Regions from separate parts of the Homo sapiens genome. Here region 1 is linked to region 2. Evidence: fine-mapped expression QTL. A gene starts in region 2. The other region holds a variant in brackets. All regions are shown on one strand. Distances are from middle to middle.

What was found. PIP is the estimated chance that this variant, and not a neighbour inherited with it, causes the effect.
Region 1: its variant is fine-mapped to the expression of MINCR in esophagus muscle (GTEx, PIP 0.95).

Annotation. Positions count from the first base shown.
Region 1 is chr8:143,223,429-143,231,878 of GRCh38, reverse strand. No RefSeq gene overlaps it. Among named protein-coding and RNA genes, the nearest start is that of GPIHBP1, 14 kb to the right of the region's middle. The variant G/A (reference allele first, on the strand shown) is at 3,992.
Region 2 is chr8:143,278,590-143,287,039 of GRCh38, reverse strand. MINCR (MYC-induced long non-coding RNA) reads left to right here and starts at 5,340. Exons shown (of 3, transcript NR_120682.1): 1 at 5,340-5,558; 2 at 6,043-6,158; 3 at 6,525-6,885. RefSeq lists enhancers at 5,411-5,560, 6,857-7,499.

The sequences.
Region 1 (8,450 bases), 55 kb after region 2:
GCGCTACCGTGCCCAACCCAAGGCTATCATTTTGCATAACTTGGTGCAATATTACACCCTCCGCTGTGGGGAGGGGCATCTGGGAGCCCCTGTGGCCACTCATTGGTTCTCTCCATTTCCAGAATTGTGGCTGCAGGGAGCTGTGCAGAGGAAGTTGTCCTGGAGGCCGCCTGTTGAGAGGCCACTTTCACTCCGGAGAGTCTCTGTAGTTCCCCCTGGCGGCTATGCCATTCAGCGGCACCGCCTTCCTGTGGCTGGGCTGTCTCCCCTGGTGCCCATGGAACCAGCTGAACCCTTTGCCATTGAAGGACATCTGGGCTGCTTCCCAGGTTTTGCCTAAAACAAGTAAAGCTGCTGTGAACACTCATGAGCAGGTTTTTGTATGAACATGACTTTCATTTCTCTGGGGCGCATCAGGGGGTCGTGGGAGTTGCGTGTCTAGTTTGATAAGAAACAGCCAAGCTGTCTTCCAGAGCGGCTGCTCCATCGTCCACTCCCAGCAGCAGCAGGTAGGTGACCCAGCTTCTCTGCCTCCCCATCAACATGTGGGGTGGTCATGGTTTATTTATTTATTTATTTGATTTATTTTTATTTTTTCAGATGGAGCGTCTCTCTGTCACTCAGGCTGGAGTGCAATGGTGTGATCTCGGCTCACTGCATAATCCACCTTCTGGGTTCAAGCAATTCTTCTGCCTTAGCTTTCTGAGTAGCTGGGATTACAGGAGCGCACAACCACACCTGGCTGATTTTTATATTTTTAGTAGAGACAGGGTTTCACCATGTTGGCCAGACTGGTCTCAAACTCCTGACCTCAAGTGATCCTCCTGCTTTGGCCTCCCAAAGTGCTGGTATTACAGGCTTGAGCCACCGCATCCAGCAACAGTTTATTTTTTATTTAGCCGTTCTGATAGGTGTATAATGAGATCTCACCGTGAATTTTTTGTTTGTTTAGAAACAGGGTTTGCTATGTTGCCCAGTCTGATCTTGAACTTTGGGGCTCAAGTGATACACCCCCCTCGGCCTCCCAAAGTCCTGGGATGACATGAGTGAGCCATCGCTGCAGCCTCACCGTGGTTCTAGTGTCGGAACGCTGAGGGTGCGTGGTGTCGAACATCTGTTCCTGTGCACGTTTGCCTTCTGCGTGTCCTCGTCAGGGAAATAGCTCTTTACGTCGTTTGTCCATGTTGTAAGTGGGTTGTTTTTGTGCTGTTGAATTTTGAGATACGTTGTGAATAGATCGTAGATTCCAGTCCATTGTCCGCTATGCAGTTTGCAAACATTTTCTCCCAGTCTGTAGTTTGTCTTTCCTTCCTCTTCCCTGGGTCTTTTGTGGAGAAGTTTTTATGTCGAGGAGGTTGTCCTCTGCTGGGTTCCTACCCTCCTCTTGTTCATGGGATGCCCCAGCCGGGAGCTGGGTCCAGGCTTCCTGCACCACCAAAGCGGCAGTGAAAGGGCTCACCCCCGTGAGGTCTCTGCTGCTGGAAGCCTGAGTGTCAGGCAGCGCTCCCACCTCCTGATGTCTGGAAGCCCCTGCACCCCGCGGTATCCAGCATGGAACTAGCTGAACCCCCTTCCCCTCCCACCTGCAGACCCTAGAGGGCAGGAAGCCTTGGCTGTGCCCTGGTCTGAGGCCAGCCTGAAGGTGCATGACCTGCTTCCATGACAGGAGCTGGGGACGCCTCTCTCCTCTGGAAAGGTCCCAATACGGGCATCTCCTGTCAGGGACCTGGGTGCAGGAGCGGTGGCCTCGCCCTGCTTCCTGCAGAGCTGACCCATCCCGGTGACCATTAGCTTCTGCAGACCTCAGTGGTCTCAGGAAAGCGTCCCTAGGGTCTGCCTGGGACCGAAGGCAGAGGTTCCTTCCTTAGGAATTTCCTGCTTTGGGGACACTGCCTCCTTCTCCAGCGAGTTCCCACAGACTAGAACAAGGAGCCGGAGGCCCAGCAGTGGATGCCCGCTTCCTGTCCTGGGGGACAGGAAATCCCCAGGAAGATATCAGATTAAAGCAGATCCCCACATTCTGTCACCTTCCTCTGGGTGAGTGGAGAAGGAGCAGGTGACCCCGGGGAATGGGCGCGGGCTTGGGACATACTTGGTCTGAGCAGGTGACCCGGGAAATGGTGCGTGGGCACGGGACGCACTCGGTCTGGACACGCGACCCAGGGGACGGGGCGTGGGCACGGGACGCACTCGGTCTGGACAGGCGACCCGGGGGACGGGGCGTGGGCACGGGACGCACTCGGTCTGGACAGGCGACCCGGGGGACGGGGCGTGGGCACGGGACGCACTCGGTCTGGACAGGCGACCCGGGGGACGGGGCGTGGGCACGGGACGCACTCGGTCTGGAGGCTGCCATGCTGGAGAGGAGGAGCCCTCAGGGTCTGTGTGGAAGAGGGAGGCAGGCCCTCCCAGACCCATCTAACAGACTCGAGCAGGGTCAGCATGCTGGGCAGGTCCCCCTCCTCTATCCCTGGAGCCAGGCCCAAGTGCCCCTCACTCCAGCTGCAGGTCACGGCCGCCCTGAGCCAGGAGGAAACAGGGTGTTCTCACTGCACTTGCTCCTGGGTCAGGGGCGGTTCAGGGTCACAGGGGCCGGTGCAGGGTCACAGGGGCCAGATGGTGGCCCCAGGGCTGGGTTCTGGGTGGGTGGTGAGCCAGCTGGGGGTGGGGCTCGGTCCCCGTGGGTTTGCTGGTCCCTCCCTATTAAGGGTGCGTAGGTGTGGCAGGGGTGTGTGTGAGAAGCCGGGCCTCGGGCAGACCCCATGCCGGAGGAGGGTCCGAAACACTGTGGGGGGTGGGGACAAGCAAGGAACCAGAACCCGGCTTGGGAAACAGACTGCAATGAGGCAGGGCAGGGGTCGCCCAGCACATGCCAGGGTGTGGCGGCCGAAGGTCAGAAAATCTCCACACCAGTCCCGTGAGATGGGCTTGGTTTTTCCCAGTGTCGTGGACGAGAGACCCGAACACAGAGCGGCTAAATGGCCAGCCTGAGACGGCACAGCTGGCAGGCAGCAGGTCCACACTCCGGTCCCAGTGGGATCTCACTCCAGGCCACACAGGTCCCTTTCTCACCTCGGGGCCCACACAGAGGCGTTGCCCCAGGCTCCAGGCCCCGGAGGTTTCCAGGGAGGGGTGCTCTCTGGACGGGCCCAAGCCCCTGCAGGTGTCGGGGCTGAGAGGCGTGGCCTGGAAGGTCACCAAGGACTGGGGCCTGTGCCTGGACGGCACTCAGAGCAACAGCGAACAGGAGGCACGGGGGCTTGGGAGGAAGCCAGGAGCAGGGTCCGACCACAGAAGGGGTGCATGTCGACTGAGCACCCGCCCCGGGCTCCAGATGCCTTCGAGGGCTCCCTCCATGATCCCACCCAGGGCCCACTGGGAAAGGAAGTGCCCTCCTCATCTACCTGTGCAGGTAGCCTTGGCCACCAGGACAGAAAGGGAAGCAGCAGGATCTGAACCTGTTCTCCCCCCCGCCTCCCTCTCCCCCCCGCCTCCCTCTCCCGCAGGCACCAACACTGGGCACAGGCTGCTACGCTCCAGAGGGGCAGGGAACCCACCGCAGCCCCTGGCGCCCTGAGTGCTCCTTGTGGAAGGGGAGGCAGGTTATGATGGAACGGGAGTACAGAGAGGAGCCCAGCCCACGAGGACCCAGGTGGTCAGGCCTGCAGAACAAGGCGATATTTGGATTTAAACGACAAAGGAGGCCGGGTGTGGTGGCTCACGCCTGTAATCCCAGCTACTTGGGAGGCTGAGGTGGGAGGATCGTTTGAGCACGGGAGTTGCTGATGAGCCTGGGAAACATAGTGAGACCCCATCTCTACCAAAAATAAATAAATTAGCCAGGCATGGTGGCACATGCCTGTGGGCCCAGCTACTCAGGAGGCTGAGGTGGGAGGATCGCTTGAGCCCAGGAGGGTGAGGCTGCAGTGAGCTATGATTGCACCACTGCACTCTAGCTGGGGTGACAGAGTGAGACCCTGTTTCATAAATA[G/A]ATAAATAAATGGGAGTTTGCTGGGAAGGTGGCCTGGGAGGAAACAGCAAGTGCTGAGGAAACAGCAGCGCAGGGCAGGGGTGGGGCCCAGGGCAGGGGTGGGGCCCAGGTATTCTGGTGCCACTGGGCCAGGTCCCATGGGTCCAGCAGGGGATGGAGCCTGAGGTCAGACCTGGGTGCCGGTGGTCCTGCTGCTGGCCAGGTCGTGGTGACAGCTGAGTCTGGAGGAGGCAGAGGCACCATATGGAATTAACTAGAAGCTCAGGTCAGTGGCGCGTGGTGCTCGCCGGCACTGTCCGTGGTTCTGAAGGAGACCGAGTGGGTAGGCATGTCTTGCCTGGGGTGCAGAGGGTCCTGGAGTCTTGTGGGGCTCAGACACAAGGTCAGAGCCCAGGTGCCAGCAGGCAACCTCTGGCCTGGCTGTTAGGTGGCCTGGGGCTGACCCCACACTCATTCCTGTCATATCGCTCATCCTCACATCCTCCCAGGCATGACGGCACTTCTCTCATGGCACTGGCCTCTCTGTGCCAGCACAGTCACCTCCATAAATTAAAATCCTGTGGATGCAAAGTCACACACAGCCCCTTCCTCTCTGCAGATTCTCTTTCACTGCAGTCTCTGTCTCTTTCTTTTATTTATTTATTTTTAATTTTAATTTAATTTAATTTTATTTTTTTGAGAGGGTCTCAGTCTGTTGCCCAGGCTGGAGTGCAGTGGTGCAATCCTCACTCAGTGCAGCTTCAACCTCCTGGGCTCAATCGATCCTCCCACTTCAGCCTCCTGAGTAGCTGGAACTACAGGCCTGCGCCACTATGCTCGGCTAATTTTTTTTTTTATTTTGTAGAAATGGTGTCTCACTATGTTGCCCAGGCTGGTCTGGAACTCCCAGGCTCAAGTGGTCCTCCTGCCTTGGCCTCTCAAAGTGCTGGGATTACACGTGTGAGCCACCACGCCCGGCCACTGCAGTCTTAACAACAACTTCAGAACCTTCTTCAGAGAGCTGTGCCTGCACCGGCCTGCCCTTCAGGAGCTTCCCACCAACTGGGACACTGGGCAGGACCCCAGGCGGCAGCAACATAAAACTGTGAGCTGATGGGTGCAGGACAGAAGGAGCCTGGGGGTCAGAGAAGGATGGAGAGGGCAGGGCAGTCAGGATGCTCACTGGAGGACAGAGGAAGCAGGCAGAGCCCAGAATTTGGAAAACCCTGGGAGAGGCAGCCCTGTGCTCCGGAGCCGAGAAAGCTCCTTGAATCCTGGCTCCAACAGGTCTCCTCACAGCCTCCGCATTTTGCAGAATGGAGTGCAACAGCAACCTCACAAGTTGTGTGGGATTGCATGAGACCGTCACAAAGACCCAGCCTGGGCCTGGGACGGGGGAGCCAAGGTGAGGGGTGCTAAGTCCATACAACGATGGGGCAGGAGCGTGCTGCGGGGCGGGGCACTGGCCTGCAAGTTGGGGGCCCCCACGTCGTGTTGTGAGGAAAGTTGCATCACTTGTGCAACCTTTGTGAAAACAAAAAGCTGAGTCCTTTCCTCTGCCTGGGCCTCAGTTTCCTCATTCAGAACAGGAGGGGCTTTTGGGTCAGGAAGGTCTAAAGCATGGGGCTTGGGCTGGGGAGAGAAGTCCAGGGCAGAGGTGGGGCTGGAGTATGGAAAGGCCCTCGGGGCCCTTCATACATATTCCCAAAGCACCCAGGAGGGACTTCAGGGGGACCAACTGCATGTGGGGAGGCGCAGGATGCAGGGGGCCAGGCAGCTGGGCACCCCCTCCTCCAGGCAGGCCTCCCTGTACCACACGGCTGTCTCCGCTTGTGCCTGTGTTTACCAGCCTGGGCTTTGTGGGGTCTGGGATGTTCTCACTAAGATGCGTCTCCCCCAGCCCCAGCCCCACTTCCCACATAGTGCCTGGCACAGAGTTCTGGGAAGGTTTGTGGAATGAACCCGGGAATGACTCACGGGCACCGCAGTAGGGGAAGCTGGGGGCAAGGGGGGCCTCCCTCAGGGCCATGCTGTCTCCTACCACCACCTCCTTGCTCCTGCGGCTGACATCCCAGATCCCGGACCTGGGCGCCCACTCACCTTGGTCCAGCATGGAGCACCCTGCCCAGCACCCCAAGGCCTGCTGGGCTGCGGGGGGCTCCCAGTCTCTCCTGGAAGCCCCACCCCTTCCCAGTTGCTTCTGCGCTGCCTTCCCGCCCTTCTTTCCCTGACTTCAGTGCTCAGTGGAGCGTCACCTCCCTGGAGGCCTCCTGCAAGCCCCAGACAGGAGAGCAGGGGCCTAGTTGCTGTGGGGATTCAGCCACATACATCTTTTCTTTTATTGACATTGACTCTTCATTACAGAATTAGCATGCCTGCCGAGAAGATCCAAATGAAAGAGCAGTACCTCAAGTGAGAAGCAGCGCCCTCCCCACTGCTGTCTCTGAAAGCAATTCCCAGGAGTTTGCTCCCGCTTCCAGACAGTTTTCTCTGCCTATGCAAAAGCACATGTTGAAAACAACAATTTGTTAAAAAAAAAAAAAAAAAAAAAAAGGACTGAGCCTGGTCGCTCATGCCTGTAATCCCAGCACTTTGGGAGGTGAGACAGGAGGATCACCTGAGGTCAGGAGTTCGAGACCAGCCTGGCCAACAGGGTAAAACCCCAACTCTACCAAAAAACAAAAAAACAAAAATTAGCCCGGCGTGTTGGTGCACGCCTGTAGTCCCAGCTACTCGGGAGGCTGAGGCAGGAGACTTGCTTGAACCCAGAAGGCAGAGGTTGCAGTGACCCGAGGTCACGCCACTGCACTCAGCCTGCGTAACAGAGAGAGACTCCGTCTCAAAAAAAAAAAAAGAAAAAGAAAAAAAAGAAAAAAAAAACACTAACTTGTAACCGGCAGGGTTGCTGCATGAGTTTCTTTCCCTCTGTGAGGCTGTTCTTGAGTGTAAGTGAGCCAGTGTGGCCAGGAGGGTGACAAGAAGCAGTGTGCACCTTGCTGTCACCTGGACTTAGAGATTCTGGAGGGGACAGTCCAGGGCTGGTGGGAAATGACACTGAGGCAGCAAGAGGGGGTCCCAAGATCTGTTAAAATCTCTGCAGGACATCACCGTACCCTGTACAGCTGGGGAGGCTGAGGCCGGTGGCGAGGAACCATCTCCCTTCTCAGGGGGCTTACCACAACGGCAGTGCTTCCTCACGTCACTCCACCGACCTCAAGGATATCAAAGCCAAGCTCCTTCTACAGAGCAGAAATAAAGACTGTTACTAGTGATAAGTGCCAGCGCCACTGAGGTTTGAAAGGCCCCTAGCTGGTTTCCGTCACAGACCATCCAAGCTGCTGAAATGCACGCTGCTCCAGATGGCCATGACCTGATCCCAGCAAAAACGCAGGAGACAAAGCTGTGCGCGGAGTTTGTCCAGAATGAAACAGTCATTCGATAAACTAGATAAAAGACTCCAAAACATGGACAAGGAAAAAAACCTGGCATAAATCAGTTGGTTGGTGGTGTGTAGGTCATTGTCATTACTTTCTAAGTTTTCTACAAGAATTACCTGGAGGCTTCATCTACAAGATAATGTAATGGGCAGAAGGGTCTGGCCACCCGTGGCTTGTAGAAGGAAGCCAAAATAGTAACGAGGTGTGATGGAGAATGAGACTTTATTATCCGTCGTAGCAGAAAGCAATTCCACTCTTCCATTTGTGGAGGGAACGCAGGGGGATTTTCTTTTTCTGTTTTTTGAGACAGGCTTTTGCTTTTGTGGCCCAGGCTGGAGTGCAGTGATTCATCTCGGCTCACTGCAACCTCCGCCTCCCAGGTTCAAGCGATTCTCCTGCCTCAGCCTCCCAGGTAGTTGGGATTACAGGCGTTCGCCACCATGCCCAGCTAATTTTTGCATTTTTAGTAGAGATGAGGTTTCACCATGTTGGTCAGGCTGATCTTGAACGCCTGACCTCAGATGATCCACCTGCCTCGGCCTCCCAAAGTGCTGGGATTATAGGCGTGAGCCACCGCACCCTGCCACGCAGGGGATTTTAAAGAGAGGGTTTGCAGAAAAGGCTGGGGGGTGAGGAGGTGCCAGGTGCATGACCCACTCCCGTGGCTTGTCTTGAATTGTTGTTCCTTCTGGTGCAGGGGCCAGCGTGGCTTCTACCAGGTTATAAACTAATTGTTGTCAATCTTGTTGTCAGTCTCTAGACGGGAGTGGGTTCCTGCCTTGAAGTAACCTTTTGCTGGAGAGAGAATTCCAGAGGTGTCTGGTCTGTGTCAGGATCTGACCCTTGAAGGTTTTAAGGAAACAGATGACCAGATTGGTGAGCATAGTGCGCGCCTAACAACCTTCCACGTAAATAAGTGTGCATGAGGCCTGGAGCACAGAACAGGAAAAGAGAGCGGAGGTCACAGCACATTCCGAGGCTGTAAAGTTTATCTCCAGAGCTATGGCTTGAAACTGGGGAGAAAGGAGAAGAGGGGAAATAAA
Region 2 (8,450 bases):
GGAAATCCTGCCACGGCCCGAATGGTCAGGGAAGGACCTCAAGCTCCACAGGAGTTCGGAGACCAGGACAGCTTAATGGCAGCTCCAGGAGACCCTGGCAGAGACCTCAGCCAAGCTGTGCCGGGCTCCCGCGTGGCAGGATCTGTGAAGTAACAGACGGGTTTTTGGTGAGCAGGTTCCAGGTGAGACACACCAGTGGCCCTAAGAGGAGAAAATGCAAGGGTGGTAGGAAGTGGCGGGTGCACCAAGACCTAGCGGCCAGCCTGACCAGCACTGACTGGCACCTTGGTGCTGTGCAGTCAAGGAGAACTGGCTCAGGCTCAGGACATTCACTCCTGCTGCGCTGGGCACCAGGGACACCCCCGAAGGTGGACAGAGCACCACGGGGGCTGCCCTGGGAGCTCGCGAAAGAGAAGGGAGAAACACAGGCACAGCAGGCACCGCCTGCCAGGTGCCAGAAAGCAGCGCGTGGAGGCCTCATTAGAAGCAGAGAGCAGGGAGCAGTGACTCAAGCAGCACTGCCAGCGGGTCCTGAAGTGTGGGCAGGAGTTTGGGGAGGGCGCTGAGGTGGGGAGGCCGCTTGGCTCTCAGGGAACCCAGCCTTGTCGCACGGATGCTGGGCTTCCTACTCTGGGGTCCTTGTAGCCACTAGGGTGTTCTAACTCAGAAAAGACACCACAGGTTTGGGATTGGAAAAGGGCTTGAGAAGCACACAACCCCAGCAATAAAAATGGGGTCAGAGCAAACACTCAGAATGGGAAACCACACGCCGGCGCGGACGGGGCCAACAGACACACAGAACCACCCGGAGTGACCTCTAGCACATCGTGTGGAGCAAAAGGAGTGCCAGGAGGGCGGGCAGACGAATCCATTCCTGAGAGGCCCGATGGCAGACAGGGCCCTCCAGAAGCTAGAATACCCATCAGCTGGGGGAGGGGAAGGGAAAGGGAGGAGAAGCTCTGGAAAGTTCCATGCTGTGACCTGGGGGGATTAGCAAGAGTGTAAACATGTAAACAGTCAAGCCGAGTGCTTAAAATTTGGGCATTTTCGCTATGTAAATTATACCCTAATTCAAAAAAATCAAGAACACCATATCCCAGGAAAACTTAATATAAAATATTGACACCAGCACGGATCTTGGTGAAGCTATTCAAGGTTATGGATGAGGAAAGAATGACCAAGGCATCCAGGCAGAAGAGGAGCGTTTCAGAGAAAGGGCAGAGGCCAAGGGCTTCCCAGTGGTGCAGGCTCAGCACAGTCCTGCAAGGAAAAACCTAAAACCCAACCACATGCCCCAAGCCCTTGCTATTCGCCATGCCCTCCGTCGAGTGTAATGGCTACAGAGGGCATTCTAGAGCTTTCAGGAGCTCAGCATGCAGCCCCTCTTGCCTGCCCCCGTGGAGCCCTCTCCCCAGATGGGAGCTGGGCTCAGGGTCCTGCTGGATGGGCACATGGACCGAGGTCCTGGGAAGCCGCCTGCTCCCACTTGCATCCTGCCTGTTACTCTCGTCACCCAGACGCTGTTCACCCAGGCTCTGCAGCAGGCGCTGGGCTGGATGGTCTACCGTGTAAACGAGGGGATTTCCCATCCCACGGGCTGCTTGAGGAGCAGCAGCCTCACAGAATGGCCATGCACAGAGTGCAGGGCGGCAGGACGGGAAGGCCCTGCCTGGAGTCAGGCACACGAGTGCCACAGTAGTGGCATGATTTTGCCCACCTGAGACTCAAGGACTGGGACACCTGTCCCTCCTCCTCCACCCACGCTGCGGGGAACTGCATGGCTCCTCCGGGCGGGGACCATAGCTTTCCGCCTCAACGTACCTGGGGCTCGGCATGCTGCGTTGAATTTTGGAGTGGATGAGGAGTGAGGGTGTGGCAGGGCGGCTGGAGCTGCCCAACTGCTGAAACTGCTGCAGGTGCCACAGCGGCTGGCTCCCTGAAAGCGTCCTCCTGCCTCTGAGACCGTAGCGCAGGAGGGTGCGAGTGCACCTCCGCAAGGCCTGACGCTGCTGATCCACTTCCTCTCCCCACGATGGGGACACACTTGGCGACAGTTCCATCTGGGGTAAAAGACCCACCAAAAGGTCGCTGGCATGGGCACTCCAGGGACACCAAAGTGGAGTCTGGGAGACCCCTCGGCTTGTGCGGGGAGCATTCCTCCCCGAAATGCTCGTCCACTTCTGGTTACAGCAATCTTTGAGGGCAGGGAGGGTGGCCAGCAGGGGGCATTGTGGAGCAAGCACGTGGGCCTCGGATCCAAGCCTGGGTTCAAATCCGGGCTGTGGGACGTCCTCACCAAGTCTCGATTTCCTCCCGTAAATGAGGGATGCTGGCGCCCCTCTCGCTGTGGGGGAATAGGGCTTCCAGCACTGCTCCCAGCAGATCTCAGACCTCAGGACGTGAAGGTTATTTTAGGGACAAGCTAACCATGAAGTCTATTTAGTGTAACAGCAAGAGCTGCTAAAAACGTGCACAGACATTCCTTGTACAGCCTGAGTATCCCTTATCCAAAATGCTTGGGACCAGAAGTGTTTTGGCGGCCGGGAACAGTGGCTCACGCCTGTAATCCCAGCACTTTGGGAGGCCGAGGCGGGCGGATCACGAGGTCAGGGGATCGAGACCATCCTGGCTAACACGGTGAAGACCCGTGTCTACTAAAAAAAAAAAAAAAAAATTAGCTGGGCGCGGTGGCGGGCGCCTGTAGTCCCAGCTACTCTGGAGGCTGAGGCAGTAGAATGGCGTGAACCCGGGAGGCGGAGCTTGCAGTGAGTCAAGATCGTGCCACTGCACTCCAGCCTGGGCGACAGAGCGAGACTCTGTCTCAAAAAAAAAAGCTTTGGCTTTTTTTGGGGAATATTTGTACCATAGTTAGCAGGTGAGCCTCCCAAATTCCCACATCCGAAATCTGAAGTGTTCCAGTGAGTATTTCCTTTTGTGCGGCATGTCAGCTGCTCAAAAGTTTTGAATTGGGGGTGTTTGGATTTGGGATACTTAGCCCGTAGTGCTGAGGAGAAAATTTCTGTCTCTTCTATTTTTCCTACACTTCCCAAATTTCTTTAAAGAGTATGAATAAATGCTATTGGGTAAAAAGAAATCTGTTTAAAACCTGTGATCTTTAAAGACTTGACCAGGGTATCCCACGCTTGAGGCACTGCCTAGGCCCAGTGAGCCAAGCCCAGCCCGAGTCGGCAGCGCGGCCCCGCCCCCGCAAGCCCCGCCCCATGCCGAGGGCATTTCCGGGCGCTCTAGGCAGCTCGGAGGACCCGTTCGGAAGACTGGCGGGGGACCCCAGGCGAACCCAAGGGTGGCGGGCCAGGGCCGGGCGAGTGCCTGGCGTTGCTCGCGCGGCTGGGGGCCATGGCTGTGGGGCCTCTCTGGGAGGGGTCGCGAGGCTGTGAACTAGCACGGGGCTACGTTGTAGAGAGAGAGATGGGGCGTCACGGAGGCAGGGGGTGCCAGGCAGGGCGCGGCTGCCAGAGGCCCAGAGGCCGAGCTGGGCCCTGCAGGTCTGAGGTGCAGGACCCGATTCTGGCCCAAGCAGGGGCGTCCCACGGCTCGAGCTGCCCGTCCAGGTGGTGTCTGAGGAGAGCCTGGGCAGCGGCCTTGCAGAGGGCAGGCCAGCAGCTCCTGCTTTGAGGGCTTGGAGGAGAACAGATTCCCGAACCAGGCCCATGATCAATGTATTTGGGTATTTGAACTAAATCCAGATTTCCTGGCTTCCCCTGAGGCCTGCTGAATCCCTTGGGGTGGGGCCTGGGAATCTGCGTTTTCCAGTGGGCCTCTCAGGTAGTTGGGTGGTCCCTGAGTGGGTTCCCATGACCCCATGAAACAAGACCCTAGAAAACGCAAGGCAAAGCGGCCTGGTGAGTGGCCAATGGTCTACAGGAACTGGATGTGATCAGAGCGAGACCTGCATCAACTGGGCAGGGGAGGCGTGGAGCCATACCTGAGGAAGAGACCCAGCCGGAACCCAGGGAAGAGCAGGCTGTGAAAACTGGGCAGAAACTTGCGGCGACTCGGAAGACACTGCCAGGAAACCCTCCCCGGGCCTCCTGTGGGGCTTGTAGCAGCCGCAGGGGTTGGCTCTCACCTTCTAGTCCCAGCCAGGTTGTCTTGGAGTCAGCTAATGGGCAAGGCCCCTACCTCTCTTAGGATCTGAGGATGGGAGGGGCTGCGTTTTTCCAGAGGATCTGCACGTGTGCAGGCTGAGTGTTGAGACTTGATTGGTGTCAACTGGCACTGCCTGCCCATGATGCACAAAAGCTACTGTAAGAAACAGGGTCCATGTCTCCAGGGAGCAGGACCCCGTTCTGAGGCCACAACCCCGAGGGCAGTCTCCGCCTGCAGAGTCCTCCCTCTCGCACCGGCTCACCTCGTGGTGAATCCCTTGGCTACGGTTTGGTGTGAGAAAAGAGATGGGTGTTTCACTCCCTGCTGCATCCCTGGTGACGGCCCTGGCATTTCGGGGCATGAGATCTTTGCTTAAAGGTTTTGCGGTGGTCACTGCACAGGGGGTGGGGGTGGGGTCCCTTGGTGCAATTTATCCGATTCTGCTGCGTGGATGACATCCACAGTGTTCCTCTCCAGTGGGGATTATCTGAGACCTTTCCGCATGCCCGCACCCACAGTCCGCTCCCTCACGGCAGCATGAACTCAGGAGGCGGGCGTTCCCACAGTCATTACATTTGCAGGGCCTCTCTATGTCCACTCTGATGCCTGAGGACCAGCGCTTCCACGAAGGTGTGGCCACGTCCAGTGCTGCTCATTGGCTTCTCTCCTGCGGGAATGTTCTGATCCCGAACGGAGCCTGAGCATGCGCGAAACCCTTCCCACGTTCACAAGGTGCTTCTCCAGTGTTCCATTACATCTCACCTATGCACACTACATGCATACGGTTTCCACCGGCTGTGCGTGTCCCTAGAAGTCACATTCACGGCGTTTCTCCCTGGGAGGAATTCTCCCGTGCATGGCTGCTCTGAGACCATTTGCACCTGCGGCCACGCGTGGGCTCCTCGAGGCTTACAAACCAGGCTGGACTCCTGAAGCCCTAGCTGCACTTGGCACTCGGCGAGGTTTTTCTACAAAATCTCATCTCAGCCATCTGAGTCCTTCACCATTTATCTTATGAATCCGCTCGAACGTACAAGGAAGGCCTCTCTGCCCTCCTGCTCCAGGGAGGAGGTTTTGACCCTCAGCTCCACCTCTGCGGCTGGCCCGGTCTCCGCAAACCTTTTTCTGCTTGGCCAGCTGGTGCCATGCTAGGCTTTCCCACTAGGGGCGCCAGAGAAAGCGCGCGAGGCTGCGGAGGAGAGAGGGGCACACTCTTTCCGGTTTGCTTCCGGTTTTTTCCTCAGGCTTCCGGTCTGTTTGGTGCCCTGGTCGCGTGTCTTCCGAACTCTGCTGCTTCGCCCCGGCAAGAGCACTTCCTTCCGCGGCTGCTAAAACTGGTGCGCGGGTTCCCAACTTCGCAGAAGAGCTTCATCGGCCCCCCGCTAGAGACCTCAGACCGCAGCCATCGACGCCTCGCCTCGGGGATCTGTCCCCACCCTCGGGGCCAGGTCAGGGACCAGAGACCTGCGAAGCCCTCTCCTTAGGGGTTTAGTTCCCAGGCTTTCTGACCCCAGTAATTCCAAACGCTTCCCTTTGTTTCCACAGCCCTAGCGTAGCAGGTGCTCCCTGCAGTTTTTGCTTCTGAGATAGAGTTCTCTTTTCAGCTCCTTCGGTAGTCACTTCGTACATAGTGATTCATGATGCGAAATCCTCTCTGTTGAAATAACTGACGAGGCCTCTGTCTTCTGACTGGACCCTGACTTCCATGCCCTTTCCACTCTCACTCCAGTACATGCCCAAACCCCAATCTTTGTTGCTCCAGGCATTGCCTCTGTGGCGCTGTGTCCCCTCCTTTGAACTCTGATCCTTCTGCTCAGGCCCTTTCTCCCAGTCTGAAGTAAGGAGTGAAAAAATGTGAATTGTTCTACTCATCTGGAAAAGAGAACCCTGAGGCAGGAACAAGTCGTTAATTGCATGTGCGTTTGTCCACAGCTCACCATGAGTCAGGCCCTGTGCTAGGTGCTGGGATGAAGCAGTGACTGACACAGGCCTGGACCTGTCCTTGGGAAGAGTGCGTCTGTGACACAGATACTGTGCCATGTGGCAAAGTAAGCGCGTGGGACAGCAGAGCCTTGTTTGCCATTAAAGTAATATCACAAGTCTGTTAAGGTTGGAGAATCAAGTGAACATGCTGAAAAGTTATGGGGAATGTAGTCTCATAGCTGGGGGAGCTGGGGGCCTTGTCAATTGGTTCCCCCAGTCTGGAGAGCAATCTGAGAGTAAGTAGTGACACTGTGTGTGCTGAGTGTGTCTGTGGGGGTGTTTTTGGATAAAATTAACATTTGAATTTGTGAACTGAGTGAAGCAGAGTGCCCTTCATAATGTGGGTGGGCCTCATTCAATTAGTTCAAGGCCCGCATAGGAACCACCTCCTGCCTGACTGAACCGGGACCTACGTCTTTTCTTGCCTTCAGACTTGAATGGAGACATCAGCTCTTTGTGGGTCTCAAGTCTACTGGCTTTCAATCAGCTCTTCTGCTTGACAGCTGCAGGTCTTGGGACTGCCCAGCCCCCATAACCCTGTGAGTGCATTCCTGATAATAACCCTCTTTCTCTTGTCCTCCCCCACCCCACATCATTGGTTCTGTTTCTCTGGAGAACCATAATACATCATTTACTAATCAGGAAATAGATTCAGAGACATTAATAACTCATCCAACCTCACAGTTAACTGTAGAGTTGGGCTTGAAATTCCAAGGTCGATTTTCTTAGCCAATACACCATGCTACATATATGTATGTAAAAATAAAAACGCTTGTGAACTGAAAAGGGTCCAAACTTAAGCTCATTTTGGTCCTTAATTGCTAATCCATAGGCATGTTTTGGTCCTTAATTGCTAATCCATAAGCATGTTTCGGTCCTTATTTGCTAATCCATAGGCCTGCACACCTGCCCCCAAGGCCATGGTTAGGTCAGCACTTGGCCCTCCCCTTGTCTGGGGCTGCCAGAAGCTGCCTCAGAAGACCTCTCCCTGCAGCTCCAGTGCTTTAGGGTTCAGCGCCCCTCCAGGGCCTTTATTTCCTTCTGGGCTCAAAAGCAGATACTGTGCCAGATACAGATGATCACTTTCTGGGTTCCAGAACTCACATGCACCCCTTTTCCTGGTCTCTCACATTTGCTGTGACCAACCCAAGCCTCAGGTGGTCCTCTGCTGAGACTGTCCACTCACGCTGTTGACAGAGCCCTTCCAGGAGCTCTTTTTGTGGGGATTTGCTATGTACCTGGCACTGTGCAAAGAACCCCACCCATGCCGTCCTTGCAGCCGCCATGTGCGGTGCGGAGCGGGCTGCGCTAACCACCATTGTCAGAGGCAGAAACAGGCTCCGTGAGGAAGGATAAGTGTGGGTTATGGAATCAGGGCTGGCAGATCCCAAACCTTGGCTCCCAGATACCATGGGATCTTTAGGAAGATCCCTGGTCACTTCGGGGAGGAGAGAGAGGGCGAAGGCTGAGAATCGGGGTCCTGGGTCGGAGGAGGGAGAGGGGTGGTGGTGTGGGCTTGGAGGTGGTGTGGGTTGGAGATTGGCCGTTGAGCTGGAGATGCTCCAGGTGGTCTGCGTCCAGGTTCCTCTGGTGGCGGGGGATGGGGCAGAGCCGGCAGGGGTGGGACGGGGCTCCGAGCCAGCCCCGGGGGCGGCCACCCGGACAAGCGGCCCTCGTGTGACGCAAATCGAAGGAGGATGGGGAGAGGCGTGACCAAGAGGCCGAGCACAGCTCAGGGTCGCAGGCGTCCCGGGAGGGCTCAGGAATATCACGTCCGGTTCAACTGCACGCTGATAAACCCGGCAGCCACCACAAGGTAGAAAAATGCCCTTAAAAGTCCACGCCTGGGTCCTGCCGGGCCGCTCTGGGGTTCCCGAGAAATGTTGAGTGGATCAGATGGCACGTTCGAGAATCAGCCCCGTGCCCGCGGGCTTGGAGAAGGCACTGAGGACACTGGGAAAGACGTAAATGCCATTTCAGCGCATCTCGCGGGCCCTGCCCAACGAGGGAGGACACAGAGACCTTGCAGAGAGTTTAGGACCCGGCGCGGAGGAACAGCCCTGCCTGGCCCAGGACCCGCCGCACCCCACTTCCTTCTCCGGGAAGCCTCCCGTCAGCTGCCGCTGCGGGAGTCTCGTGCGGGCTGCCGCGAGTGCGCATGGCCCCGCCCCCTCCCCGCCCCTCCAGGAGCTGCGGCCACTTCCGGGACTATCTGGGACGGCGTGGAGGACCGCCGGGCTCCCCTCTCCGGTCGCAGCGGGCGGGAGTCCAACCCGGGCGCCGGGGTCGCCCTCTCCAGGTCTCACCTGCCCTCCTGCTGTGACTCCTCCAGAACCCCCGGCCTGGCCCCCAGGTGT